2 separate regions of the Homo sapiens genome follow, and region 2 is linked to region 1. The links come from fine-mapping of genetic effects on gene expression. Tissue or cell type: whole blood. Region 1 holds a variant in brackets; the other region holds the start of a gene. All regions are shown on one strand. Distances are between the middles of the regions.

The links.
Region 2: CMTM7 starts here. The variant in region 1 is fine-mapped to the expression of CMTM7 in whole blood (TOPMed, PIP above 0.99).

What each region holds. Positions count from the first base shown.
Region 1 is chr3:32,408,706-32,422,618 of GRCh38, reverse strand. All of the region lies in intron 1 of CMTM7 (CKLF like MARVEL transmembrane domain containing 7), which reads right to left. Among named protein-coding and RNA genes, the nearest start is that of CMTM7, 24 kb to the right of the region's middle. RefSeq lists enhancers at 2,189-2,268, 2,359-2,428, 2,489-2,548, 1,780-2,979. The variant T/C (reference allele first, on the strand shown) is at 4,998.
Region 2 is chr3:32,384,841-32,400,680 of GRCh38, reverse strand. CMTM7 (CKLF like MARVEL transmembrane domain containing 7) reads right to left here and starts at 8,828. Exons shown (of 5, transcript NM_138410.4): 1 at 8,616-8,828. The coding sequence starts at 8,774.

The DNA.
Region 1 (13,913 bases):
GCAACCCTAGCTTTTAAAAAGGAAAGGAGAATGAAGTTATTCATTCAAGGATTATCTACTGATGGCCAAATACACGTCCAGCTCTGTGCTTGGCATTAGGGCTACGAGACGGCACTGGTTGCCATTTTGCCAAAGATAATCCTAAGGAACCTTGACACAGAAGAAATAGTTCTGCTGCTGAGTACTTTTGCCACTATCCTGGGGAAATAAATATTTGGAGAAGCTGTGGGGCCAGTCCCAGCAGGAGGCCTGGCACCCAGCCCTGGGCCCGTGCCAGAAGTGAGTGCCTGTTGAGTTTCACAATGTGGGTGTAGGCCGCCTTGATTAAAACCCCAGGCAGCACAATGCCAAATAAGTGCCAGCCTGGGGAAGAAGAAATTAGTCTGGGATAAAAAACGACAAAACAAGAATAGAAAAGCCATTAAGGGATTTGTAAGCATGTGTCACGGATGAAAAATCACTATTGTTGAGAACGTGTGATCATCACGTTGTGCCCTGTGGGGCCTGGGGAAGGAAGTATGAGTGTTAGCCAAAGGCTTGCCTTCCATCAGAGGAAGGAAGGCCAAACAGGAGCAATAAAGCATGGCTAGCAACCCCCACAGGTCAGACAGTCACTCAACACAGACAGTAGGGGCTAGTTCACCCCGTTGGGCCTCAGTTTCCTCATCTTTGGCATGAGGGATAATAATCAAATATACTACAAAGAGTTAATGAGTTAATACAAGGATTAAATGAACTAATTCAGGCAAAATATTTAGAACAGCCTGGTACTGCTCCAGTAAATGCTCAACAAATGTTAGGTATTAAAACTTCTTTCAGAAGTTTCTTGGGAGGAACAAATAGGATAATGTTTGAGGTCTTGGCACAAAGTAGCACAAAAATGATGATTCCTCTAAGTGCAGTGTGTTGTCACCAGGAGATGAGCAAGATATGAGGACAGCTTAGACACGGACCCTGTCCTAAAGGGTAAGGAGCTTAAGATCCAGACACAAGTAACGACAACAAAACAGGGGATAAATACCACCAGAGAGCTACAATTTGTGAGGAATAGAGGAAGGAGAAGGTCAGGCATGTCCCGTATGAAGAGCAGACATGGCCCTGGTGTGGACTCCACAAAAGCATTCCAACACACAGAGAAGGGGAATCAGAGGCTTCTGGCAGTGGGAACACAGCCACAGAAGGCATAGGGGTGGGAAAGCACAAGAGTATATTTGGGAACAAGAGGGTTGTTGTCCATGTTAGGCAAACTGCACAGGTATGTGAAGAGGTGTGATGGGAAGCAAAGCTGGCGGGATGGGGTGGGGATCAGATTCCAGGCTGAGGAAGTAGATATGCTAGGTGGGCGATGGGGAGCCAGTGAAGGTTATTGAGCAGAGAAGAGCCACAGCAGAATTGTTCTTCAGGAAAATGAATCTAGTAGCAGGTGGACTGGAGATGGGAGAGAAAAGACACAGAAGTCAGTTTGTAGGAGGCTGTGTCAGTTCTAGCAAGGCAATGGGGACTGAAATCAGAATAGTGGCCAGAAGAAAAGGGAGAGGAGCTGGGTGGGAGAGGAGGGCAGCAGGTGGCAGGAATGTCCCAGGGAGCCTCCAGGGACCCAGGCTGCACGGTGAGGTGGGGAGCAGGGTCGCCTCCAGTGGGAGGGTCCAGACAGCCGGTGAGACCAACAAAAAAACTTCCCTGGCTGGCTTGGCTGCCTCAGATTGTTGACAACATGGTCAAGCGATTCCGTCTGTGCAAACTCTGCCATAAACTAAACCGCTGAGTCAAGCAAGCAGGCAGCAGGCCTTGCCACTTCTGCAGGCCATTAGCTGGCCCCCTCTCCTGCCCCCAGACCCAGTTCTGAGGAACAACTCCCCAGAGAGGGCCTCTCCCACCTGCTCTCTGGCCGCTGCATTTTTTAGGGAACAAAAAGCCAGCTGTGGTAAACCGCCCTTCAGTCAGGCAGACAGTGGGACTATGGCGTGGACACCTTGCCCCTTTCTTCCTCCTCCAGCCTTTTCAACCGTGTCCCCAGTTCAAAGGCATGATCATTGTGACCTGCAGGCCCAGGTACAGCTGAAGTCATTTCAGAAGGCTGGCGTAGAGTCAGCCCTCCCCTGCTGCCTGCATTCTCCTTTGCTTTCTCACTTTTGAGTCATCTGAGTGCCAAGTGAAAACAAAGACCTCCCTTCAGAAAGTTCCCCACCTCATTGGGCTTCACTTTTTAAAAATAACCTGTTAGGCTGGAACCTGGCCACTCCCTACATTTCCCCTCACCCGGCCTGCGGGGTCATTCTCAGGCCTCCTTGCCACTGCAAAAGCCTCCTGGTGGAAAGACAAAGAAGGCCTTTCAGTCCCCATGAAGCAGGCTCTGCTTCTGCCCTGATCTGGATGCATCTGGAGGAAACAGGGAGGCCACAAAGAGACATGGACGAAAGGTTCATCCTCAACAATACCTCCTCTCATGTGCCTGCTAATGGAGAACTAGACTGCTCAGATAAACACAAATAAACTGTTCTTCTAAGGTGACAACAGGGACCCAGCACTTGGTAGGACCTCAATAATGTGACGCAAATCAATTTGAATCTAGCTACTGGACTCAAATACTTCTTCCTACATCCTGTTCCTGAATTGAGCTGCATAACTTCAAGTTTTTCTAACATGTAGGCAAAAAGGAGAAACAGATAAACCCAAAAGAACACCAACCACACAGAGAGGAAAGAGAGACCAGGATTCAGAATAACCCACACTAGACCATGAATACATGAATATCTCAAAAGGAAGGACGCAAAGTGGGTTGAGTCATTAACAAGCTTACAGAGAAACTCCAGGCTATCAAAAACCCTCCATAAAATATTAGCATATCATATCCAACATATATAAGAAATACAAATGTACCACAGCTAAGGTTTATCACAGGAATGCATGAGTAGTTCAGTACTTCCAAATGTTTCAAATGTATATGCCTTATGAACAGACAAAACAAGAAAAGCCATATATTCGTATCAACTGAGACAGAAAAAGCGGCATTTGACAAAATTCAATATCCAGTCATGATTAAACAAAACAAAACAAAACTTTCAGCAAGCAAGGATAGGAGGGAACTTCCTTGACTGAGAAAGGGCATCTAAAAACCAACCCACAGCTAACATGATACTTGATGAGATACTGCATGCTTTCCCCCAACACAGGGAACAAGGAAAAGATGTCTTTTCTCACATTCTTATACTGCTGGAAGTTGCAATAAGGTAAGAAAAAGAAATAGAGGCATATGGATTGAAAAGGAAGAAACAAAACTACTTCATTGGTAGACAACATAATGATCTATGTAGAAAATCCCAAAGAATCTACTAAAAACCTCCTTAGAACTAATAAATAACTTTAGTAATGTCATGAGATACAAAACCAATTTACAAAAATCAACTGCATTTCAATATCTTAGCAATGAACAACTGAAGTTAAAAATTAAACACAAAGGAGAGGACTATTTACAATAGCAGCAAAAAGGGAAATATTTATTAGGTATAAATCTAACTTTACAATATGGTGAAAATGATAGAACACTGGTGAAAGAAATCAAAGACCTAAATAATTGGAAGGGCTCACCGTGTTCATAGATATTATTAATTCATGATATTATTAATGAGCCAATTCTCCCCAAATGGATATGCAGGTTCAACACAATTTCAATCAAATCCCAGTGATAGGCTTTATTACTGTTATTTTTGTAATATTGGAAAACTGATTCTAAAATTCATATGAAAAGGGCAAGGAATGAGAATAACCAAAAACAACTTTGCAAAAGAGCACTATCCAATTTCAAGATTTACTATTAAGTTACAGTAATCAAGACAGTGTGGTACTGGTGAAAGCTTAGACAAATAGACGAATGCAGCAAAACAGAGTCCAGAAATAGACCCATATGAATATAATCAGCTGGTCTTTTGAGAGAAGTGTAAAGTAATTCAGTGGAGAAAGGATATCCTTGTCAACAAGTAGTGCTAGAAAAACTTGATATCCATATATAAAACAACGACCCCTGGCCCATACTTAACCCTTATGCAAAAATTAATTCAAAACGGATCACAGACCTAAAATATAAAACTGTAAAACGTCTGGAAGAAAACGTAGGAGAAAATCTTTGTGACTTGGATTAGGAAAAGAGTTTTTAGATAAGATACTGAAAACACAATCCATAAGGAAAAAAAACTGATAAATTAGACTTTATCAGAGTTAACTTTTGCCCTGCTCTTTCGAGAGACTAAGAGAAAGAAAAGGCAAGATATAGAGCAGTGGAAACATTTTGTAAATCCCATTTCTGACAAAGAACTTTATCCAGAATATACGAACAATACTCAAAACCTAAAAATAAAAAACCAACAAGCCTATTTTTAAAAATGGGCAAAAAATGTGAATAGATACTTCACCAAAGAGGCTATGTGGATGGCAAATAAGCACATGAAAAGATGTTCAACATTATAGTCTTTAGGGAAATGGAAATTAAAACCACAATAAGGACAGGCGCGGTGGCTCGCAACTGTAATCCCAGCACTTTGGGAGGCTGACGCAGGTGGAGCTCTTAAGCCCAGGAGTTCGAGACCAGCCTTAGCAACACAGGGAAACCTGGTCTCTACAAAAAATACAAAAATTAGCTAGGTGTGGTGTTACACGCCTATAGTCCCAGCTATTCAGGAGGCTGAGATGGGAGGATTGCTTGAACCCAGAAGGTGGAGGTTGCAGTGAGCTGAGATCATGCTACTGCACTTCAGCCTGGACACCAGGTGAGAACCTGTCTAAAATAAATAAACAAACAAAAAAAAAACCAAAAACAAACCACAGTAAGATATCATTACCTACCTATTTGGATAGCTAAAATTAAGCAAAACCCAAACTAGAAAATACTGATAATATCAAATGCTGGCAAGTGTGGTAAACAACAAGAACTCTCATACACTGCTGTGGGAATGCAAAATGGTATAGCCACTGTAAAAAACAACTTTGCAGTTTCTTATACA[T/C]TTGAATATATACTTAACGTACGACCCAACAAAACTACAGATAGGTATTTACTTAAGAAAAATGGAAACTTACATTTATACACCCAAGAAAAACCTGTAAATGAATGTTTATAGCAACTTCATTCATAATCGCCAAAATCTGGAAACAGATGTCCTTCAACTGGTGAACACACACATATCCATATCATGGAACACTACTCAGTAATAGAAAGAATATTTTTATTATCCAAGTGATAACATGGATTAATTTAAACCCCTTTTCCTAAGTGAAAGAAGCCACTCCCAAAGCTACATGTTATATTATTCCATTTATACGACATTCTGGAAACAGTAAAACTATAGGGATGGAAGACAGATCAATGGTTGCCAGGAGTTACAAGGTGGGGAAAGGATTGACTATGAAGGGGCAGCATGAGGGAATTTAGGGTGATGGAACTGTTCTGTACACACTGTGGTGACGGATCTATAACTCTATGCATTTGTCAAAACCCACAGAACTGTTCTAAGTGTTCCGAAATTGATTGTGGTGATGACGGTACACACTCTGTGAACAGACTAAAAACTTCTGAATTGTCACTTTGAATAGATGATTTCTATAGTATGTGAATTCTATCTCAATAATGCTCTTATTTAAAAAACTTAAAAGAAAAAGACATCTGCTGAGAAACCACACAATGACACTGCTGTGGAATGACAGTTAGATTGTGAAGAAGAGATGAAATTCAGAGGTCCCAGCCCTTAGTACACTTTGTAAAAAGTTCACTTCATTTCCATAGAAATGACTTTCTCTGACTTTCTCTGCCCTGGAATTTCTTAATACCAAAAGAAAAACCTTAAAGCAATACCACAGCCCCCAACACTCACAGTTCATCTACACCAGAGCCCAGGCTTTTTTGAGCTTGCCCAGCAATTCATTCTTAACAAGTACATATGGTTGGGCGTGGTGGCTCACGCCTGTAATCCCAGCACTTTGGGAGGCCGAGGCGGTTGGATCATGAGGTCAGGAGATCAAGACCATCCTGGCTAACAAGGCGAAACCCCGTCTCTACTAAAAATACAAAAAATTAGCCGGGCGCGGTGGCGGGCGCCTGTAGTCCCAGCTACTCGGGAGGCTGAGGCAGGAGAATGGAGTGAACCCGGGAAGCGGAGCTTGCAGTGAGCCGAGATTGCGCCACTGCAGTCAGTCCGCAGTCCGGCCTGGGGGACAGAGCGAGACTCCGTCTCAAAAAAAAAAAAAAAAAAAAAAAAAAAAAAAAAAAATTAGCCCGGATGGTGGCGCACGTCTGTAATCCCAGCTACTCAGGAGGCTGAGGCAGAATTGCTTGAACCTGGGAGGTGGAGGCTGCAGTGAGTCAAGATCGCACCATTGCACTCCAGCCTGGTTTACAAGAGCAAGACTCTGTCTCAAAAACAAAACAAAACACAAAAAAGTACTTATGTGCACATATATATCATAATTAGAACAATGCTGATCTCAAAAACTTTTCCCCTACTTCACAAGAGAAAACTGAGACCAAGAGAAGGGACGTGATTTACCCAAGATTACCTACCCATGTAGTGGGCAGCAGAGCCAAGAGCCAACCCAATAGTCTTTCTTCATCACCTTGATGTCTATGCTAAGTCAAAAACACAGGCCTGGCATGTATGACATGCTCTACAGATGACAGCTAAATACAAAATGAAACGTCTGAGAAACCTTGGACAAAGACCAAGTGGGCTCTCTCCTCATGCAGACACAGACCTGTGCTAATCTAATATTCTTATCAAAGGGACTAGCATAGATTTGCAGAGGCAAGTTGGAGATGTGCAAAGGGAAAAAGGAAATGAAGACCTTGTAGAAAATATTATGAATATGGAATAGCAAGAACAGACCCAGCTAACTTCTGGAGAAAAGATTAAAGATCTCACTAGACTACTGAAAGGAGGTAATAAAAAAATAACTAACATTCACTCAGAGCTTAAATACTTCAGAGAAGATCTGCACAGTAACCCTGAGCAGGTAATATTATCACCCCCATCTCACGGAAGAGGGAACTGAGGCATAGAGAAGGCAGGTGATGTACCCAAGATTTCACTGAGGAGTAGGAATCCAGCAGTTCCACTGCCTCAGTTTCCCTCCCTTATCAGGAGATGAAGAGTAGCATGAAAGAAAGTACTTAATCCCAACGGGAGGGCCTACTGAAAAGGCAGCATGACAGTGGAAGACGACCTGCAGGTGTCACAAAGGTGCTGATGGTCTCAGGTCCCTGCTGGTTTGCTTGACACAAGGCAAGGGAAGTTATGAAGGTGGCCTGTGATCTGTATGGCAGTGAGAAAGTCACTACTTGACATTCTCATCCTTTAGAGAGTGTATCCACAAGGGGATGCGTTAAAATGCAGGTCCCTGGGCCCCTCAGCCAAAGTTTATTATTATTATTATTATTATTTTGAGACAGAGTCTTGCTCTGTCACCCAGGCTGGAGTGCAGTGGCGTGATCTCGTCAGCCAGAGGAGTTTTTAATCCAGTGGGTCTGAGCTGGGGCCCAGGAATCTGCGTTTTGAACAGGTTTACTTCCATCCCCAGCTAAAGTACTTTGGCTGGTCCCTGGGCTAGACTGTGGACAACCTTGGCCTCTACAGAAGAGAGGCAAGACAATACAGATTAAGAGCTTGGCTTTGGAGTCAAACAGTTCTGGGGTCAAATTCCCATTGCCTCTTAGCTGTGTAACCTGGAAAGGCTATGTAACCTCCCAGGGCCTGTTTTCCACCTGGAAAGTGGAGGTGACAAATAGTACCCCACTTAGAGAGCTCTTCCAATACCTGAAAAGCACTACGCACAGTTCCTGGCATGCATCACATGCTCTGCCCACAAGAGCTAAATGCAAAAGTAAAACTCTCACTGGGTCCCTGCAGCACTTCCGTTGTCGTAAAGAATTGGCAGGCTCCATATCATAACATTCTTGGGTTATCATTTCCTCTTCCTTAGCTAAATTTTCTGGAAGGAATCTCTTCCTGTGTATGAATCAGAAACTCAAGAGAAGCCACACTTCCCCAGCATCCCTTTTCCTCCCATGAAGCTTCAATGGTAAAGTTTCTTCACCTCTCCCCTTGCCCCAGGGATGGAGATTGACATTGACTTAGAGTGGACATCTGTTCAGGGGCAGATGGTCTGTGCAATTTGAATATTTATTATCTTGGTAATTTGTACTTCACCTCTTCCTAAAGTAATGAGGCAATAAAAGGAGCCTTAGTAAGAAATGTCAAAGATGAGGGGACGAGCAGAGACTTGCACCAAACAGAAGCTGTGAACGCAGTGCTGAAATACAGCGGTAAAGAAGGTGCAAATTTTCAACGTCAGTGGAACGTGGAGAATGAAAACTGAACCAAGAAAATGTAGCTTGGTCATTTGGTCCTGGGGTGGTGGAATTCCCTGGAAATAGACTCTGAGAAAGAGATTTGCATGCAAAAAGTTAACTGGGGAGTGCTCTCCAAGAGATTACAGTGGGAGAGTAAGCAAGACAGGACCAGGTGGAGGGAGGATTTGAGCAGTCATAACAAAGGCCTTGGCTGATACTCCGAGGAGCACTGAAGCTAGGACCGCTCTTCAGAGTTTTCTCTGTTGAAGCAAGCAGACCAGGCCTTCCTGACTCTCCACTGACCACTGGATACAGGCTGCCCCCAGGGAGAGGTTAGGCATCATCTTGGGTGAGGCGAGTCCCTTTGGTGGACATCAATTTGTGGGGAGGGACTCAGCAGGCCACATTCTTGGAACCTGCGGCGGATGAATGCCTCAGCAATAAAGGGGATATTTGGGCACACACCAGTATGGCCACTGCAACTGTTTAAGTGGGCTCTTTCCCCAAAAAAGTAGTTTAAAAAGAATAGAAAAATCTTGGCCCAAACTTGAATAGCCACATAGGAAAAAAGCTGCCTACTGACCAGGAACCCCCATGCTGGGGTTCCTAAATGGCTGAGGGAGAAAGCTATCGTGTCAAACCAGTAACATTTGAGAGTTATTTGTTACAGCAGCTAGTGTTGCACTAATAAAAAAATCTAAAACTATGAGAAACACTGTGAATGAAAAGAACTGGGTGCTATTAGAGGAGTTATAATGGAGATGAAGATTAGTTACCTCTGAGTACAAATGAAATGGACCAAAGGTGTGTTAATAATATCTTCTAATCACTCTAATCTTATAACAGTTAATAAATGAATGTATCAATGAATCAGCTAATTCATTTGTTCTGATATGTCACTGTCTTTAAGGTCATAATCATGTTACAAATAGAGGTTATTTTGAAATCAACAAACTAAGTTATATATCCTGTGAATAAATATCCATCTCTCAGAATTTATCTTAAGGAAAATAATCTAAGTCAAAAGAAAACTCTACTGCATACCGTAAAACAGCGATTGGCCATTTCTTTTTGGTAAATGACCAAATAGGACATATTTTAGGCTTTGCGGGCCACACAATCTTTATTGCAACTCCACTCTGCAGTGCTAGTGTGAAAGTGACCATATGTAATACATGAATGAATGGGTTTGGCTGTGTTCCAATACAACTTTATTTACAAAAACAGGTGGCAGGCCAGATTTGGTCTGTGGGCTGTAGTTTGCCAACCCCTGAAAATGTTCAATGTAATATCATTTATAGTAGCTAAAAGCTCAAAAGCAAACCTACATGTTTAAAAGTGAGTGGTCACATAAATTTAAAAATATCCACTTAGATGATTGTACATATTATGTGCAATTATGAAGCTTTTATAGCAACAGGGACATTACCAAATATTAAATTTTGTAATAGAAAAATAAGCAACAAAGCAGAATCTATTATTGTCAGTAGGGTAACAGCCCTGCAAACTTTACACATATTCTTAAACAAGGGCCAAAATATAACATTGTAGAAACTGTGGAATGGTGGGCGCATGGGTGAATTTAGTTGTTTCAAATAACTTTCAGATTTAATTATATTAATGTTTCCCTATTCATATTTGTGTAGTAACAAACATCTCAAAAACTTAAAAAAAAACGCTAGGTCTATAAAATCCCTTCAACTTAAGACCCAGATGAAAAAAACTGCTGGAGGAATTAATGATGCAGTGTGTGTGTGTGTGTGTGTGTGTGTGTGTGTGTGTGTGTGTGTGTGTGTGTGTGTGTGTCAGTCTCAATCTGTTGCCCAGGCTGGAGTGCAGTGGCATGATCTCAGCTCGCTGCAACCTCTGCCTCCTGGGTTCAAGCAATTCTCCTGCCTCAGCCTCCCGAGTAGCTGGGACTAGAGGCGTGCGCCACCATACCCGGCTAATATTTTTGCATTTTTGGTAGAGATGGGGTTTCACCATGTTGGCCAGGATGGTCTCAAACTCCTGACCTCAGGTGATCTGTCTGCCTCGGCCTCCCAAAGTGCTGGGATTACAGGTGTGAGCCACCACACCCAGGCTGCAATGAATATTTTAATTTAGGTATATTAACATGCCCACTGCATCATTAATTCCTCCAGCAGCTTCTACGAGACAGTTAGCTATGGTGCGGATGTTGGCAAAGCCCAATGGAACCACTAACATTTTTGTGGCTAACAGATCCTCCATACTTCACCACTACCAAAAAGCCTACTTTATGAACTGACCAAGAAGATTGCAAACCTTGTACTTTTTCTCCCAACTCTGGGACTTTGCAGAGACTGTTCTCTTCTCCAGGACACCCTTCCACCTTTCCCTCCTGCCTTGCCCCTTCCCGTGCATTAGGTCTCAGCCTGGAGCTTCGTTCGAACTCCTGACCTCAAATGATCCGCCTGCCTCGGCCTCCCAAAGTGTTGGGATTAGAGGCGTGAGCCACTGCGCCTGGCCAAGTCGGGGTGTTTCAATGACCACTGGAAAAACAGTTGTGTAGTTATCACTGCCTATGCATGTGGCAAGGTCAGACACACCAGCATCAAAACGTGTGTCATAGGTGCCAGCAGGAGGAAGAAAATCTCAGAGACAAGAGTAGAGCACCTTGACCCCCAGGGTATGGGACTGATGGCGGGGACAGTGACTCAGGGGGTCACTTAGCAACATTCCCAAAGTGGGAGTCAAAAGCCAGTGCACAAACCCAGCACTGATGGCTTTTAGTTTTTGTGTGGATTCTTCTGAGAAATGCTGCATGGCTCACACTCTTGATAGCATAGAGGACAATAGCTTGTGTAGAAATATTCTAAAAATAAAAAGATTTAGAAGAGGAAGGCTCTGACTGTAAAAAAATTTTAGGGATATCTTAACCAATTTATTTTTCTTCACCTATTTTCCTTTTTATATATTCACAAAAATATGTAAAATTTATATTTAATTAAATCTAAAAGAGTTCTTTCAATAAGCATAAGACAAAAATCCTGAACGATAAGAGAGATTTGTGTTACCACATAATTATTATTTTTCTTTGTTTCTTAGGGAGTGCCTAAAACAATGGTGCCTTCGAGGTGATGAAATACCATCCTTGTTTAGGGTCTTGATTTTCAGCGACAGGGAAGCCGGCTCTGCCTCATTCACAGCTGTATCCCCTGCGGCTGACACAGAGCTGGGACAGAGCAGCCATTCAATAAACATCTGATGAAGTGACTTAAGGTAGCGCCTCTGCCAGGCAAAGGGCCACACCAAATGGCTAACACTCGAGTGAGGAAAGGTATCACAAACTGAGCTTGCCACTTCTGGCATTTGATTCTTTTAGCCTTTAATCCAATATAGTAATCCCACTATTCAGTGTTTCCTGGTGTTGCTTTAAATTAGAAACCCTGCCCTGAGAGCTTGATGAGCTGACAGACACTTCTGTCATCCCTCTGCTTGTCTCTGTTTGCTTCTGTTGTTTTGATTGTGAGTCTGTCGAAACCTGTCAACTCAACTAAAGAAAAAAGAAAGGTGCTATCACAACAGGCTAACAGCTACTACGAAAACTGCATCTCTATCGCAAACTGTGGGGGGTGGGAGTGGGCTGCTCCAGGACAGGAATCCTAGCCTCTCTTTGCTAGGCATCCTAGCCTCTCTGTGACTTTTCCCAGCTTCTTGGCCCGCAGGCTTGAAGATATGTGCCCCAGGCCCCATGGCCTGTTCTGGGCCTGGCAGAAGGGCTCTTTCCACTGCTGGGCCCACACCCCAGCCCCCTCCCTCAGCAGGTGTCTGACACAGCATTATTTCCTCTTCTGGAGAAGACCCAAGTCTCTCAAGCACTTCATCCATGCTGACTCTTTGGAAAGGAGTGCTATTACCAAAGGCTTTGTCAAAGAAAATATGCATGTGTTCATTTGAAAAAAGATGATGAGTATTTCCTGTGTTCCAGGCACCACCTTACGAACTGGACACTCCGTGGTGACCTGAACAGAAAGGTGGCTGCCCCTCTGCAGCTCAGGTCTTGGTAGAGAAGATCTACCATAAACAGGTAATTAAGTGAACAAAGGGATTCTGGCTGGCAAAGTGCTGTAATGAAATCAGAACCGGGAAACAGGATAGAGTGATGGTAGCAGGGTGGTGCAGGGGACTACTTTAGCTGAGGGGCTGACGAAGGCCCTCCTAAGGCAGGAGAGGGGGCAGTCCAGAGGGGAAGCAGAGCACCCTAGACCTGGGTTTGTTTTTGTTTCCTCACTATAAAATACGCAAAATAAGAGTACCTAAATGATAGGGCTATTGTGAGGATTAAATGAGGTGATTCACATCAAATTCATACAATAAGACTTGCTAGTTAGCCACTATCCCAAGGAGGTGACATCTGAGCTAAGGCTTTTTAAAAGAACAGGACATCCAGCAAAGCTCAACTTGAACTACTAACTATTAACTTCAGATAAGACATTTGCAAAAGGGACTTTTGTGAAAACAAAAGCATTCAAATTGAGACAAGTTATGCCAAACATGATTTCTTTTCTTTCTTTGTCTTCTGCCTCCAGTGTAGCTACAAAATGCTGAGAATCAGAGGGTCCCACCAAACTGACTTTAATATCCAATGAAGGGACAGCTGTGTCCTGGACTCTCCACAAATGTTGACGTCATGAAGAACAAGAAAGACTGAAAACCTGTTCCAGATTGAAGGAAATTAGAGATGTGACAACTGAATACACCTTATGATCTGGGATGGGATCCTAGACCCAAGGACATTAGTGGGTCAATGGCAAAATCTGAGTAAGGCTTGTAGATAAGTTAATAGCATTTGTATCATTAATTTCCTGATTTAAGTAACTGTACTGCAATTATGTAAGAAAGGGTCTTTCTTCTTACAAAATGCATGCTGAAGCACTCATGGACAAAAGAGCATGATGTCTGCAACTCACTCTCAAATGGTTCCAAGAAAAAAATAATAGCATGCATACAAATGGAAAACGATCAAACAAATGTAAAATGGTAACAAACGGAGAACCTGGGGCAAGGGGATATGGGGAGTTCTTTGTCCTGTTCTTCAAAAGTTTTTGTAAACCTGGGATTATTTATAAATAAAAAGTTACGGCCCAGGCACAGTGGCTCATGCCTGTAATCCCAGCACTTTGGGAGGCCCAGGCGGGCGTATCATGAGGGAAAGAGATGGAGACCATCCTGGTCAACATGGAGAAACCCCGCCTCTATTAAAAATACAAAAAATTAGCTGGGCATGGTGGCGCGTGACTGTAGTCCCAGCTACTCAGGAGGTGAGGCAAGAGAACCGCTTGAACCCGGGAGGTGGAAGTTGCAGTGAGCCAAGATTGCACCACTGCACTCCAGCCTGGCGACAGAGCGAGACTTTGTCTCAAAAAAAAAAAAAGTTACAAAAATATATAATTAAGAGACTTAAAATCATCTGATACTTCTACAAACACTAAAAAGATAGCACCCAATTCACAAGTACTAGATTAAGCAATGCTAATTTGACCACTTTAATACATATGTTTTTGGGCTGCAGTAGCTCATCTTTAAAGATTCTACTAGGATGCAGTAAGATTTATTT
Region 2 (15,840 bases), 23 kb after region 1:
GGTGGGTCACACCTGTAATCCCAGCACTTTGGGAGGCCGAGGCAGGTGGATCACGAAGTCAGGAGATTAAGACCATCCTGGCTAACACGGTGAAACCCCGTCTCTACTAAAAATACAATAATTAGCTGGGCATGGTGGCACATATCTGTAGTCCCAGCTACTCGGGAGGCTAAGGCAGGGGAATCACTTGAACCCGGGAGGTGGAGGTTGCAGTGAGCCCGCGCCACTGCACTCCAGCCTGGGCAACAGAGTGAGACTCCACCTCAAAAAAAAAAAAAAAAGAAGAAGAAGAAAAAAAAAGAAAAGCATTTACAAAATATGTATAGAATCATCCTAGTTTTGTTTAAAGAAAAACACCACCAGCCGGGCAAGGTGGCTCCCGCCTGTAATCCTAGCACTTTGCGAGGCCAAGGCAGGTGGATCACCTGAGGTCAGGGGTTTGAGACCAGCCTGGCCAACATGGAGAAACCCCGTCTCTACTAAAAATACAAAAATTAGCCGGGTGTGGTGGCACATGGCTGTAATCCCAGCTACTTGGGAGGCTAAGGCAGGAAAATCGCTTGGTCCTGGGAGGCAGAGGTTGCAGTGAGCTGAAACCGCACCACTGCACTCCAACCTGGGCAACTGAGACTCTGTCTCAATTAAAAAAGAAAAACAAACCACCACCAAAATTATGTGTATCTACTATAAAATACTTTAGTTTTACTTTTTAATCTTGGGGAAGAGGGAGTGGGTGAGTCTATTTTCTTCTTGTGCTCCCCAAAGTTTCCACAATGAACAAGTATTACTTTTGTTAGGAATAAAGCCAATAACTTATTTTATTATATTTTATTTTTGCATTTGTTTGGTCACTGACAGTAGTTTCTTGTCAGGAATGGGCTGAGGTCAAAGAATCTTGGCAGTGAGGTTCTTTGCTGCTTTTTACTCTCCAACTTCCAGGAAGTAGGACATGGGTGTGCAGACTGCACTTGGGAACCAAACTAGACCCCCTCCTCGCCCTCCGCCATACACATCTAAAGCAGAACATAAAGGGATGGGCCCTTCTGGATGATGCTGGGCTATTCTGTGCTAACAGGTCTATTCACAGCTAGACCAGAGGCTGACATCCCCCACAGCTGAATTCCACTTGGCACCTAACCTGTGAATTCTCAAAGTGAAGCCTGGAATTGCCCAGGCCTCTTAGAGGGTCTCCAGGACCCGCTCTCCTGCCAAGAAACCTTAGTGTACTCCCCCCAGCACCCAGTCTGGGAAGGCTCCTTCAATCTTATTTCAGACAAAACATCCTTTTAGGATATAAAGTATTTTGCACTGTCAAAATTGCACTGTCAAAATTCCAGTTTGCATTACTATTCTGAAATGAATAAGATGTATATGTAATATAACCCTAATCCCTGTGACAACCAAAAAAAAAAAAAAACAAAAGGTTCCATAAAATTCCAAAATAACCCCTAGGGGGCGGTACAGCCCCTAGTTAAGAGTCACCTCATGAATGGTGAGTTGATATGATGCTTTGCTGATTTTTCTTAGACTAAGGACTATATATTCACCAAGATTTGGCAGACCCTGGAGTCTGGTCCCTGCATACCTCCAGTCTCATCCCCAATACTCCCACCCTGTTCTCTCCCCTCCAGCCCTAGAGATACTCCTCCCTCCACTAACAGCCAGGGTCCGTGCTCTTTCTTTTCTTTTTGGGGGGATGGGAGGACAGGGTCTTGTTCTGTCACCTAGGCTGTATGGAGTGCCGTGGCGATCACCACTCACTGCAGCCTAGACCTCCAAGAGATCCTCCCATCTCAACCTCCCGAGTAGCTGGGACTACAGGCACGTGCTACCACACCCATCTAATTTTTGTATTTTTTTGTAGAGACCGGGTTTCACCATGTTGCCCAGGATGGTCTCAAACTCCTGGGCTCAAGCCATCCGCCCGCCTCGGCCTCCCAAACTGCTGAGATTACAGGCATGAGCCACTGCGCCGGCCAACGCTCTTTCTTCTGCTTGTGATGCAATTTCCTCATGCTCACATCAGATGTCCCTTCCTCAGAAACACCCTTCCTAATCCCCAAAAGGTCACACTCCCTAGTATATGCTCTATACCACTGAGTACTTCTCCTTCATAATTTCGAACCTGTTTGTAATTACATATTCATAACCATTTTGATTAATGTTTATTTTCTCTATTTGAGTATAAAGAGGCAGGGGCTCATCTGTCTTCTTTCCACAGTTCCCTAGCACACAGTCGTGATCACCTACTAGTTAGCTGATCACAGTAGGTGATCAACAAATATTTGCCAAATAAATAAATGAACCTCCCAGAAGATATTTAGATTTCCATCATTGCCGCTTGTGAAATACATTCTGATTCTCTGTCCATGTTATGGTTATGTAAACGTCACAGTCTGTTTTTCTGCACAGGCAGAAAGAGTCTATCCTGTTAATAGCTGTATTTCACATAGCGTAAGATTAACAGCATAGCAGATGCTCAGTGGATAAGATGGCACCCATTTCTAAATGTCTGGGGTGGGAAGATTAAGATAATTACCCCAATTCTGGCTCATTTCTTGCTACATCTTTTTCCTTCCCAACCCTAACATACCACTTATCTCTAACTTAAACATATATTGAATAAAGGCACCAAAGGGGTAAATGAGCCACTCCCAACCTGAAAACTTACACTCATCTGTCAAGATGCAATTTAAATATCACCTTTGCCCTCTGATCCTCTTCCATAAGGTGGGCAACTATCAGAACGTTTACCTTCCTGAGCAGCCAATTTTGGTACTTGTTCATCCCCTCAGCTTGTCAGAGGCATCCTAACCAGAGTGACTCCATCTTGAATAAAGGCCGAGAGAAAGCCAAATCTGCTGGATTACATTCCCAGGGGGTTGGGCAGTCTTGGTCACATGATGTTTATGGTTGAGGGAATGAGTTAATAATTTTTTTTTTTTTTTGAGACAGAGTCTCACTTTGTTGCCAGGCTGGAGTGCAATGCTGCGATCTCGGCTCACCGCAACCTCTGCCTCCCGGGTTCAAGAGATTCCCCTGCCTCAGCCTCCCGAGTAGCTGGGACTACAGGCGTGTGCCACCACGCCTGGCTAATATTTTGTATTTTTAGTAGAGATGGGGTTTCACCATGTTAGCCAGGATGGTCTCGATCTCCTGACCTCGTGATCCGCCCACCTCAGCCTCCCAAAGTGCTGGGATTACAGGCGTGAGCCACCACACCCGGCCCGAGTTAATAATATTAACTAACTAAATAAAGACCCAGAACTTACGGAAATGTCCCAGTTCTTCAAGAAGAAAAAGTATTCTTAGTTTAAGAATAGGTTCTGCTTTTAAAATAATGGTACACTCATAAGTTCTTGCTAAAATCAATAATCACATAGGAAAGTAACAATATTAATAGCTTGTCACAAGCTGATCGCAAGCTTTTGTAATAAAGTACACTATTTTTAATAACCTATATAAGCAAGCATTGTATTTGCAATGGGTGCGTTCCTCCTCTTGCTTTCTGAAGAGTCTCTACTCTGTAATTGAGTGGCGTCTAGTAAACTACTTTGACTTCACTATACTCTACAACTTGCCCTGAAGTTTTTTCTGCACGAGATCCAAGAACTGTCTCTTGGGGTCTGGGACAAGACCCCTCTTCCCATGACAAGCTGAACCACAGATTACTTGAGGGCAAGAACTTTGTCACAGTCATCTGATTCTGCACAAATGGAGATGAATGTGGCAGTTATAAATGTCTGCTGAATGAACAAATAGATAGGACGTGTTGGTAGGGCCACAAGCCCCATCCTGGGGTCTCCTTAATCCCACAGCAAGGATATCTAGACCCCTTCAGACCCCAGGGCATCCCTTTCAGCTCAGACCCTTCAGGCACTCAGGGGATGCCTTTCAGCCCAGCTTTTGTGACTCCTGCAGGGGACACTCCTTCTTCTAGGAGTGGATGTGGTGGGAACACCACAGGGATTTCCTGAAGTGTAGCTGTAGCCTCCCCACACCCAGTGGCTGCATGCAGAGCACCTTGCCCCCTCACACTCATCCACAGGTCTACTTACATAATTACATACCAACCAGTTACTTATTTAAAGTATAAATCTCGGTGGTTTTTAATATATTCACAGAGTTGTGCAACATCACCATCACCAATTTTGTTGTTGTTGTTGTTGTTTTTGTGACGGAGTCTCGCTGTGTCACCCAGGTTAGAGTACAGTCACGCAATCTCAGCTCACTGCAACCTCTGCCTCCTGGATTCAAGCAATTCTCCTGCCTCAGCTTCCCCAGTAGCTGGGATTACAGGCACCTGCCACCACATCCAGCTAATTTTTGTATTTTTTAGTAGAGACAGGGCTTCACCATATTGGCCAGGCTGGTCTCGAACTCCTGACCTCAGGTGATCCACCCACCTCAGCCTCCCAAAGTGCTGGGATTACAGGCATGACCCACCGCACCTGGCACCATCACCAATTTTTTGAACATTTTCATCACCCCCTAAAGAAACCCCATACCCCTTACAGCAGTCACGTCCCATTTCCTTTCAACCCCTGCTCCCTGACCTAGGCAACCACTAATCTATTTTTGTGTCTACGCATTTGCCTATTCTGGACATTTCATATAAATGGAATCATATAATGTGGTCTTTTGTGGTTGGCTTTTTTTCACAGCTTAGTGTTTTCATGGTTATCTATATGGTTACACGCATCAGTACTTCATTCTCCCTTTTTATGACTGAATAATATTCAATTGTATGAATGTAGCACTTAGTTTTAGTTGCTGTTTATACATTCATCATTTGATGGGCAACTGTGTTGTTTTCATTTTCTGGTTATTATGAATAATGCTGTTATGAACACATATGAATGTGTAAGTCTTCATGTGGACATCTGTTTTCATTTTCTTGGGTAGAGCTGGGAGTAGAATTGCTGGGTCACATGGTAACTTTTGAGAAACTGCACAGTTTCCCAAAGTGGCTGTACCATTTTGCATTCTCATCAGCACTGTATCAGAGTTCCAATTTCTTCACATCCTCCACATCTTCATCACTTGTTGTTTTCTATTGTTGTCATCTCCGTGGGTGTGAAGTGTTATCTCACTGTGGCTTTTATATCCCTAGAACTATTAACAAGCAACAACTCTGCCAGAGTTATGAGTTTTGGAGATCAGGCCATTAGGCCTGGATCGGTTCCACCACTACTGCTAAGAGCTGTGTGACTTTAGTGTCTCTTTAACTCTTTAGCCCGTTTCCTTATCTATCAAACATGTTACTTCACTGGATTCTTAGAAACATTTAATGAGATTATACACACATGGTATATAGTATGTAATTACTAGAACAATAATAGGGCTAAAAAAAAATAGCTATTAAAAAAAAGAGTCTCATGCAGGCGCAGTGGCTCACCTGTAATCCCAGCACTTGGGGAGGCCGAGGTGGACAGATCCCTTGAATCTCTAAGTTCAAGACCAGTCTGGGCAACATAGCAAAACCCCGTCTGTATCAAAAAATACAAAATTTAGCTGGGCATCGTGGTGGGTGCCTATAGTCCCAGCTACTCGGGAGGCTGAGGTGGGACAATCGCCGAGCCCAGGAGGTTAAGGCTGCAGTAAGCCATGATAACACCACTGTCCTCCAGCCTGGGTGACAGAGCAAGACCCTCTCTGTCTCGCTCAAAAAAAAAAAAGTCATTTAGCCGAGCGCGGCAGCTCACACCTGTAATACCAGCGCTTTGGGAGGCAGAGGCGGGGGCGGATCATGAGGTCAAGAGATCAAGACCATCCTGGCCAACATGGTGAAACCCCATCTCTACTAAAAATACAAAAATTAGCTGGGTGTGGTGGCACGTGCCTGTAGTCCCAGCTACTCGTGAGGCTGAGACAGGAGATTTGATTGAACTCGGGAGGCAGAGGTTGCAGTGAGCTGAGATCGTTCCACTGCACTCCAGCCTGGTGACAGAGCAAGACTCCCTCTCAAGAAAGAAAGAAAAAAAAGAGTGCTTTAAAGTCAAAAGTCAAAACCTGTGACTGTGTCTCTACTCCAAAAAGGAAGACCAAAGAAACTGAATTATCATGGCCAGAGGATTATAAAAATTACACATGTATAAATGACATGTCAAGTACACACATTCACTCAGAAACTCATTTTCTAGTAATGGTGGACCCAGAAGAGGCCAAGACAAGGGAAGTCATTCTCCAGTGGAACAGCCTTTGCAATGATTTCTTAAGACAACGTGTTGGCAGATCTATTGATCAGATCATGATGAAAACATTTCATGAGAAGCTGAGGACAAAAGGGTCAACCTGTTCAGTATGAAACTGAGAAACTGATGGTCAAAATGAGAGACCCATAGAAAGAAAGCCCCAATGGGTGGCATTAATTTAGCTGCTTCTGCCCTTCCCCAATGTTAAAACTTGGCTAAACAAGCATTTTCCAGCAAAGAAGACAAATGAACCTCAAATGCCCAAGCAGAGTCTTAGAAAAGAGGAGAAGTGGGAAAATAGGGAGGAGTTAGATAAGAGGCCCAAGTAGATAGCCCTAACTAGGACTAATACAGCCATCCTGCAAGGGCAACTTTGCTCCCAGAGGGTCTGATCAAACAAGCCTGCAGCAGTGATGGGGAATCCTCCAGGGCAGGTGTAAGACTCCTCAGCATGGTTTTAAGAGGAGCACATAGAGAATAAGCAACCAGATAAAGAAATTATTCAAGTCTTTGTTCTCTTTTTTGGAACAACAGGCCCCACTCTTGCCACTTGCAAATTGGCCCAAGGACCACAGGCCAGAGGCTAGCTGAGGAGCTTAAGATGAGATGGAGATTTCTCATCTCCCAGTATCTTTATTCATCAAAATCATGGACCACATGAAGGCTTCTCATCTCCATTACCTTTTCTTTGTACCTTTTTTTTTTTTTTTTTTTGAGACAGGCCTCCCTCCGTCACGCAGACTAGTGCAGTGGCACAGTTCACTGACCTTCTCAGTTCAATCAATCCTCTCACCTCAGCCTCCCAAGTAACTGGGACTAGAGGCCCATGCCAACCACACAAGGTTTTAAAATTTTTTTTGTAGAGATGGGGTCTCGCTATGTTGCCGAGGTTTCATCTCCATTATGTTTGTGTACCAAACTCATAGACCAACAAGAAGACTTTTCATCCCACAATATCTTTGTCCAGCAAACTCAGGGGCCAAGATGGAGGCTTCTGATCCCATTCTCTGTCTACCAAACTCATCCCTTCCAATGCTCAGGTAGGATATGTCTCACCCCAGCCCATCTTTTAAGGATGGTGAGATGGGCTGGTCTCTTCTATTTGGCTGATCAAATCTCTTAGCCTGGGCCAAAAAATGCCCTGCTCAAACCCAACAATGCTCAGCACCAGATTTTTTTGTACGTTGCTGAAATGGCTCTTCCTAGTTTTTGGTCTATCTAGACACCGTTCTTAGGGAGGCAGGAACTCAGCGCCCCTTCTCTTTAGGTCTGGCCCAAGCAAGACATGAGGGCCACCTCATGCACACTCAGTGTCTGGAATGGCAGTGCTATAGATGCACAGACGTCCTGTGCCCAACCCCCTGGGGCCAGGCCACCTTAGCAGGCCCCAGCTTCTGGGTGTGTGACCTTGTCCAGCCCCACACTCCTTTCCCCACACCTCTTTTTGAAACTTACCGCTCCCCTCCCCACCGTTCTTGGTGCAAACATTACAATGGTGGAGACTCACAAACAGCCCAACCCAGTTTCAAAACACATCATACAAACGGAAAAGTTGTTTCAGATTACAAACTTTTAAAGAAGAAAAAAACGGGAGGGGAGAAAAGAAAAGAGTGGGGAACAAGAGAATCGGCCAGGCAACGTCTGCCCTGGTAGGAGGCCCTTGTGCTGAGTTGGTCACAATCCAAGCCCAGACACTCATCCTGCCTGGCTCCACGGGTGACTCCCATTCAACAGTCTGGCTCCCCTACATGAGTACCAGCCCCTGACAACAGGCCTTTCCCAACTGACCCCCTGCCCTCCAGAGCCCCCTGAGACCCGGGCCCTCCCTCGGAACTTGAGGGCGCAGGGGACCAGGACGGCCGTCTCAACGGTCCCAGTTCTTTTTCCCCACTATGGAACACAAGACCCTCTGACCTCCTCCTTCGAGCGAAACTGCACACAGAGCAGGGAAGCCCTGCCGCGCTGGGTTCGGAGGAAAGAGGAGGCCGTGGACGGGGAAGAGGTCGGGTTTCGCTCCCTCAGCGCCGCCGCCTGGGCGACTCTTCCACCCCCGGCTCGGGTTCGAAGCGGCGCGGCCCAGAGAAGAGGAAGAAAGACGAAAAGGAACTTTGCCCGTGGTTTCAGTCAGTAGGCGGGTCAGGCTTCGCAGGGGGGTGGCCGGAGAAACTTGCGACCCTGGCGACCTGGGTCCGCGGGAGCAAGGGCCGGGGCGGCTCTGGGGACTGAGCTCCAGCGCGGGGGCTGCGGCAGCAACTTTCCCGGAGGAAGCCTGCCGCGAACTTTAGCGACGCGGTGCCCCGCCCGCTGCGCGATGCTCCCTGGGCTCCGGCCGGGTCCAGACGCCCGGCGCGTCCGCTCCCGGACCCCTGCTTTCCCGGGACGCCCTGTAGAACCTCGGCCTCGCGCCCCGCGCTCACTTACCATTTGCGCCACTTTCAGCAGGGCCGCGTGGGTGCGGGGGTAGCTGAGGTCCAGCAGCCCCTCCAAGGGGCTCGCGCTGGGCTGGGCCGCGCCGGCCCCGGGTCCGAGCGCGCTGCCGCTGCTGCACGTGGTGCGGACGAGCCCGGCTCCGTGCGACATTGCGCGGCCCCAGCTCGCTGGCCGCCTCCCCGGGCAGCTGCCCAGGGGCCAGATACAGAGGGCGGGCCGGGGGCGGGCGGGGGCGGGCGCTGGCGAGGGCGGGGCGCCCGGGTCCCTGCCCCGCTGCTGGAGACGCGGAGCCGCCTCTGGCGGGATCCCTCCGGTGACTGGCCGGCCGGCGCCTTCCAGAAAGGTAGCGGCAGTCCCGGCCCTCGTAGATGCGCGGAAGTTAGACTGGAGCGAGAGGAAACCGGATGCCTTGGGTCGTGGCCTCTCCGAGGTGGGCAAGGCCCGGACCACAGCTGGTACTGAGCCTCCTGGGATTTTGTGTGGGTGCGGCTGCGGATGTGTGCTGAGAGCACTTTACTGAAGTTTAACTTACATAAAGTGTGATGCCCAGACCTTACGTGTTCAGCTCCACTAATTTTTATATATGTGTACACCTGTGTAACCGTCGCCCAGATCAACAAATAGAACGTGCCCATCACCCCAGAAAGTTCCGTGGTGGGCCTTCCTGACCTACCTTCCTTCCCTGGCCCCATCCTTATCCAGCCTCAGGCAACCACTACAGTGTATTCTGCTTTCTGTCACTGTAGGTTCATTTTGCCTGTTCTTGGACTTCATAAACTTGAAGTAATACAGAATATTCTCCTTCAACATAACAAATTAGAAGATCCATCCTGTTGGGAATATAAGTAGTTCATATCAGTTCCTTCCTTTTTATTGCTGAGTAGTACTCCACTGTGCAAAGATACCGTATTTTTTAAACGTTTACCCAGTTGATGGACACCAAGCTTGCTTCCTTCCTACCTGCTTGCCTGCCTCCTTCCCTCCTTCCGGCCTTTCCCCCCTCCCTCATCTCTTTTCTGGCTATAGTCACTATTATGGTACACGTTTTTTTGGTGGATACAAACTCTCATTTCTCTGGGACAAATATCTGCAAGTGAACGCACTGGTTACAAGGGGAGCATATGTTTGCTTCTGTTAGAAGCTGTCAGCCTGGGGAACATGGCCAGACCTCATTTCTACAAAAAACAAAAAATAAAAATAAATTAGCTGGGCCGGGCGCGGTGGCTCACGCCTGTAATTCCAGCACTTTGGGAGGCCGAGGCGGGCGGATCACGAGGTCAGGAGATCGAGACCATTCTGGCTAACACGGTGAAACCCCGTCTCTACTAAAAATACAAAAAATTAGCTGGGCGTGGTGGCGGGCGCCTGCAGTCACAGCTACTCGGGATGCTGAGAATGGCGTGAACCCGGGAGGCGGAGCTTGCAGTGAGCAGAGCTTGCGCCACTGCATTCGAGCCTGGGCGACAGAGCGAGACTCTGTCTCAAAATAAAAATAAAAATAAAAATAAATAAATAAATAAATTAGCTGGGTGCAGTGGCACATGCCTGTTCAGGAGGCTGAGTCTGGAGGAGCCTTGGAGCCCAGGAGGTTGAGGCTGCAGTGAGCCATGACAGTGGCATTGCACTCCAGCCTGGGCCACAGAGCAAGACCTTGTCTCAATTAAAAAAAAAAAAAAAGACAAGAAAAAGAAAAAGCTGTCAAACAGCTATCCAAGTGACATTCTATTCTGTATCCCTTTTGGGTTGTTTTAAAAATGAAGAGGCCAGGCGTGGTGGCTCACACCTATAATCCCAGCACTTTGGGAAGTCAAGGCATGAAGATCCCTGGAGGCCAGGAGTCCGAGATTGCAGTGAGCTATGATCTTGCCACCGCACTCTTGTCTGGGTGACAGAGTGAGACACTGTCTCTTAAAAAAAGAAAAAGAAAAAGAAAAGGAAAAAAACATAAAAATGAAGACAGGCCCAAACGGGACTACCAAAACGAGGTATGTTATCATGTTCCTTTTGAGCAGTGTCCCTGTGGCCATACTTACATTTATTCATTTGGAGATAACATCAAAAAATCTGGCTGGGCACGGTGGCTCATGTCTGTAATCCCAAAATCAAGCTCACAAGCCCAAGTTTGACACCAGCAAGGGCAACATGGAGAAACCCCATCTCTACAAAAAAATACAAAAATTAACTGGGCATGGTGGCACATGCCTGTAGTCCCAGCTACTCAGGAGGCTGAGGTGGGAGGATTGCTTGAGCCCGGGAGGTTGAAGCTGCAGTGAGTCATGATTACAACACTGTACTCCAGGCTGGGTGACAGAGCAAGACCCTGCCTCAAGAACAAAACAAAGCAAAGTGAAACATAAAACTATCTTTGTGAGTTTATTCCCTGCCAGTGCTGTCTTGTCATCAGAAGAGTTTTCGATGTGGCAAAGTCCTAATAATTCTTGTTGGTGGATGATACCCATGCAATATCTGTTTTGGCAAGTCTCTTAGGTGATTCTGATGCACACTCAAATTTGAGAACCACTGTCATTGCCAGAGTCCACTGCAGTTGAAACATTTGGGGATTTATTACACTATTTATTTCACCTTTATGTACATTTGACAATTTTCATGACCAAGAAAAATTGCCTTCCACGTGTGTCTTCTCTGTAGACAACAGTCACAGCTGCCTGGTACCTCCATTTGTTTCTCTGTAATTCAGGAATAATTGCATCTAGGGGCTGCTGTGACAATGTGATAGATATGCAGGTGTGCTGTGACATTTCTGGCTCTATACCCACAGGCATGAAGTTAGTACTGTGTATCATTTTTTTATGTAGATGTACATTTCACTTCTGTACTTGTCTAAGGCTTCAGGACCCACAGTGGAGATAACAGGGCATCTTTGTTGAGATGAGGGTTTCAGGGAAGCAGAAAAACCAAGTGCTGGATCATTTCTCCTTTGAGGGGCCTTTGTCCAATTCAGCAGTCTTCTAACAGTGATTTTCAGTGTATAGCCCCCCAACCAGCAGTACCTGCGAACTTGTGAGAAATGCAGATTCTAGGGGCCCACTCTGACCTGCTGAATCAGAAACTCTAGGGGTAGGGCTCAGCAGTGTGTGTCTTAACAAGTCTTCCCAACCCCACCCTCACTCCCCACCCCCCTTCACCATCATTCTGTGATTCTGATGCATACTCAAGTTTGAGAACAACTATCTCTTCCTGAGTCTGCTCAGAAACATTGCTGGGCTTTTCTGCCTGGTGTTGACTAATGCACCACCCACCTCTAATCAGAAGTAATCACTGTGCTGGGCACTCTGTGTTAATCACTTTATTATGATCACTTAAGAGCTTGAGCAAGATGCTTGCCAGTGCAAGGGCCATTGCTGGCCTGACTTACAAGAAGAGGCTTCAGAGGCTTGCCAAGTGCACTGAGATGTCTACACTAGTGTGTTGTCTGCTAGATGTGAATAGCTGCCCCTTGGGAAAGCAAGGTCTTAGGCAAAGGGCTTCATAGCCCACTTTAAAGATGTCACACTCTAAGAGGGAACCAACCAGGTAGGTGACCTCTGAATACCTGGTGAGAAATCAAGATGTCCAAGTTCTCCTTTTCTCTACACCGAGGGATTGCAGGTGGCTTATTGACAGTTTAAAGCTTCAATTCGAGTGGTACTCTGACTATAACTCTTCTTCACCAGTGTGTTTATGATGTTATATCTGATCAGATATAATGAAAAAAGTAATAAAATTAGAGTTGACTCTGTATTAGTCACAGTGCTTTTGATGAGACAAACTAAAATCAAGCAAAAAGAAGAGTTCATTCAAGCTGGGAGCAGTGGTGCATGCCTGTAGTCCCAGCTACTCAGGAGACTGGGGTAGGAAGATTTCTTGAGCCCTGAAGTTCCAGGCCAGCCTGGGCAACATAGCAAGACCCTGTCTTTAAAAACAAAACAAAACAAAAAACAAAATAGGCTTGGCACGGTGGCTCATGCCTATAATCCCAATATTTTGGAAGGCCGAGGCAGGAGGATCATTTGAGGCCAGGATTTTGTGACCAGCCTGGGCAGCATAGTGAGACCCCCATCTCTACAAAAAATGAAAAAATTGGCCAGATGTGTAGTCCAAGCAACTTAAGAAGCTGAGCGGGGGGAAGATCACTTGAGCCCAAGAGTTCAATGTTACAGTGAGCCATAATCGTGCCACTACACTCCAGCCTGGGCAACAGAGTGAGACCTTGTCTCAAAAACAAACAAACAAACTAATAAAAAGCAAAACAAAATAATTCATTGGCTTGAGTAACTGTGATATGCAGAGGTATACACCCACTTCAGGCATGGCTGGATCCAGGTGCTCCTCAGGCACAGTCAGGACCTCCATCTCCTGGCTTCACTCTGCTCTGTGTTGGCTTTTCAGGCAGGCCCTCTCATGAGCTCTGACAGCTCAGGCTTACACAATAATCCTGCCTTCGTTATTTCAGCCTGTCTTTTCCAGTGGCTCTGGTACTGTCTTAGGCTGCCATAACAAAATATCACATACTGGGTGGCTTCTCAACAAGAATTCACTTCTCACAATTCTGGAGACTAGAAGTTCAAAATCCAGTTGCCATCAGGGCTGGTTTCTGGTGAGGCCTCTCTTCATGACTTTAGATGGCCACCTTCTTGCTGTGTCCACACATGGCCTTTTCTCTGTGTACATGGAAAGAGAGAGAGAGATCTCTGGTGTCTCTTCCTAAAGGGACACCAGTCCTATTGGATTCTGGCCCCACTCTTATGACCTCATTTAACCATATTATCTCCCCAAAGAGTCCATCTCCAAATACAGTCACACTTGGGGGTAAGGCTGCCACCTATGTATTTGGGGCAGGGAGGACACACAATTCAGTCCATAATAGGCACTATCTCTCATTAGTCCAAATATGGGTCATGGTTCCATCTTTCAACGAATTACTATGGCCAGAGGAGTGGAACATTTTTGGTGGCCAGGTCAAGTTCTACCTACCCATGAAGCTGGGGGTGGGATAGGTTCAGCCCAGTAGAACCACAGGAGCTGAGTGAGGAAGGGGTGGTTCCCAAAAGGAAAACCAGGGTGCGAGTATCAGAAAGCGGAGTGAATATTAGGCAGTGTTATGCACTGAATGTTTGTGTCCCCCCATCATTTAAAAGTTGAAGACTTAACGCCCAATGTGATGACATTTGGAGATGGGGCCTGTGGGCAATAGTTAGACTTAGGTGAGATCATGAGGGTGGGGCCCTCAGGGGGGGATTGGTGTCCTTATAAAAAAGACACCAGAGAACCTGCTGGCATTCTCTCCACCATGTGAGAATACAACGAGAAGGTAGCTTTCTGCAAGCTAGGAAGAGAGCCCTCAACAGGAACCAAATCGATCAGCACCTTGATCTTGTACTCCCCAGACTCTAGAACTCTGAGAAAATAAATTTCTGGTGTTTAAGCCACCTGGCCATGGCATTTTGTTAGGAAGTCTGAGCTATGCCAGGCAGACAAAGGCATCAGGTGTCCATGAAACTCTTCCAATATCAGCCTTTAAAATCCTTTTCCAGTGAATTTCTTTATTTGTTTGTTTATTTATTTATTTATTTATTTATTTATTTATTTATTTTTGAGATGGAGTCTCACTCTGTCGCCCAAGCTGGAGTGCAGTGGCGCGATCTCGCCTCACTGCAAGCTCCGCCTCCTGGGTTCATGCCATTCTCCTGCCTCAGCCTCCTGAGTAGCTGGGACTACAGGCACCCGACACCATGCCCAGCTAATTTTTTGAATTTTTAGTAGAGACGGGGTTTCACCGTGTTAGCCAGGATGGTCTCAATCTCCTGACCTTGTGATCCGTCCGCCTCGGCCTCCCAAAGTGCTGGGATTACAGGTGTGAGCCACCGCGCCTGGCCTCCAGTGAATTTTTAAAAAGTTTATTAGGTTCCGTAAACCAGTCAAACTCTCAGGTCCTTCTGAGAATCACCAATCAGCTGCCTTATATCCATTGGAAATTTATTGCATCAGGCTGGCTCCTGAGCCAAGGGCAGCCCATCAGTGGGTTGGCCAGTAGTGTTTGGAGTGGCCTTATAAGGGAACTTTGCCTAGTAAGAGTGGGAGCTCCACTGATGATCCTCTGTCCTGCGGAGTTTGAATGTGAGGCATTGAGAGGGGTTTAGCAATTGGGACATAGAGAGAAGGTGGAAGCCAGGAGGCTGGTTGGGCCATGAGAGGAAATAAGGAGAGGCAGAGCAGAAGAGAGTGGCTGAGGCCCAGCAGAGGGAGAGCGGCATGTACTCACCACAGCGGGGCCAGCCAGGATACCTGGTCTTTAGCGCCAGGTGGGACCCTGAAACCTTTGTCTTTGTGCTGCCTGGCTGTGTGGCTGAGAGGCAGGACTCTGGAACCAAACTGCCTGGGTTTGGCCCTTAGTTCCATCACTTGCTAGATGTGCAACCTTGGGCAAGCCTCTCTCAGCCTCCATTTCCTTCTCTGTAAAGAGGAACAACAATAGAAATGACCCCTCAGGGTAACTGCGAGATCTAAATGGGATAAGACATATGGAAACGGTCTAGAGTAGCATCTGGCTCATAGTAGTAAATGTTACCTATTTTATCATTTTTCCTAAGTCCTTATGTATCGAACAATGAGGCTTCATTATCTGAGGGCTGAGGGACTCCTGTACGTTGCCATTTCCATAACCATAAGCATCAAAGACCATCTTCAAGGGTGAAATAAAAGATTTCTTGGATTTAGGTAATCCAAGGAATTTTGAGAGCTGCTGGGGAAAAGTTTTACTGAGAGAGGAAGGGAGGAGAGGAGGATTCACCTTGTTATTTGCTCACAACCCTCACTCAGCAAATGTTACGGAGAGCCTTCCACATGCCTGACTGAACACTTCCCAGAAGAGGAACTCCCTCCCCCAGGGAGTTTGTAACCATAGCAACACAGGGAAATAGAGTCAGATAACCGAGGAGGCTGTGGTCGTCATCTCTGTCATCTCTGTTGGGAGGAGTCGAGGTCTGGGTTAGACGGCTCCCTGTTTGTGTCCAGTATTTAGCAGAGTGCCTGGCCCAAAGTAGTACTCAGTTTATATTTGTGGGATTAATGCAGAGCTGTAGCATCCCTGTAAGGGATGGCCCAAAGCTGGGAGTAACCAGCTTGTCTTGAACTGGGAGGAGAAAGTTTCAAAAAAGAATATGTGCTTGGAACTAGGTCTTGAAGGGCGATTAAAAATTTATGGGGTGGGCAAAAG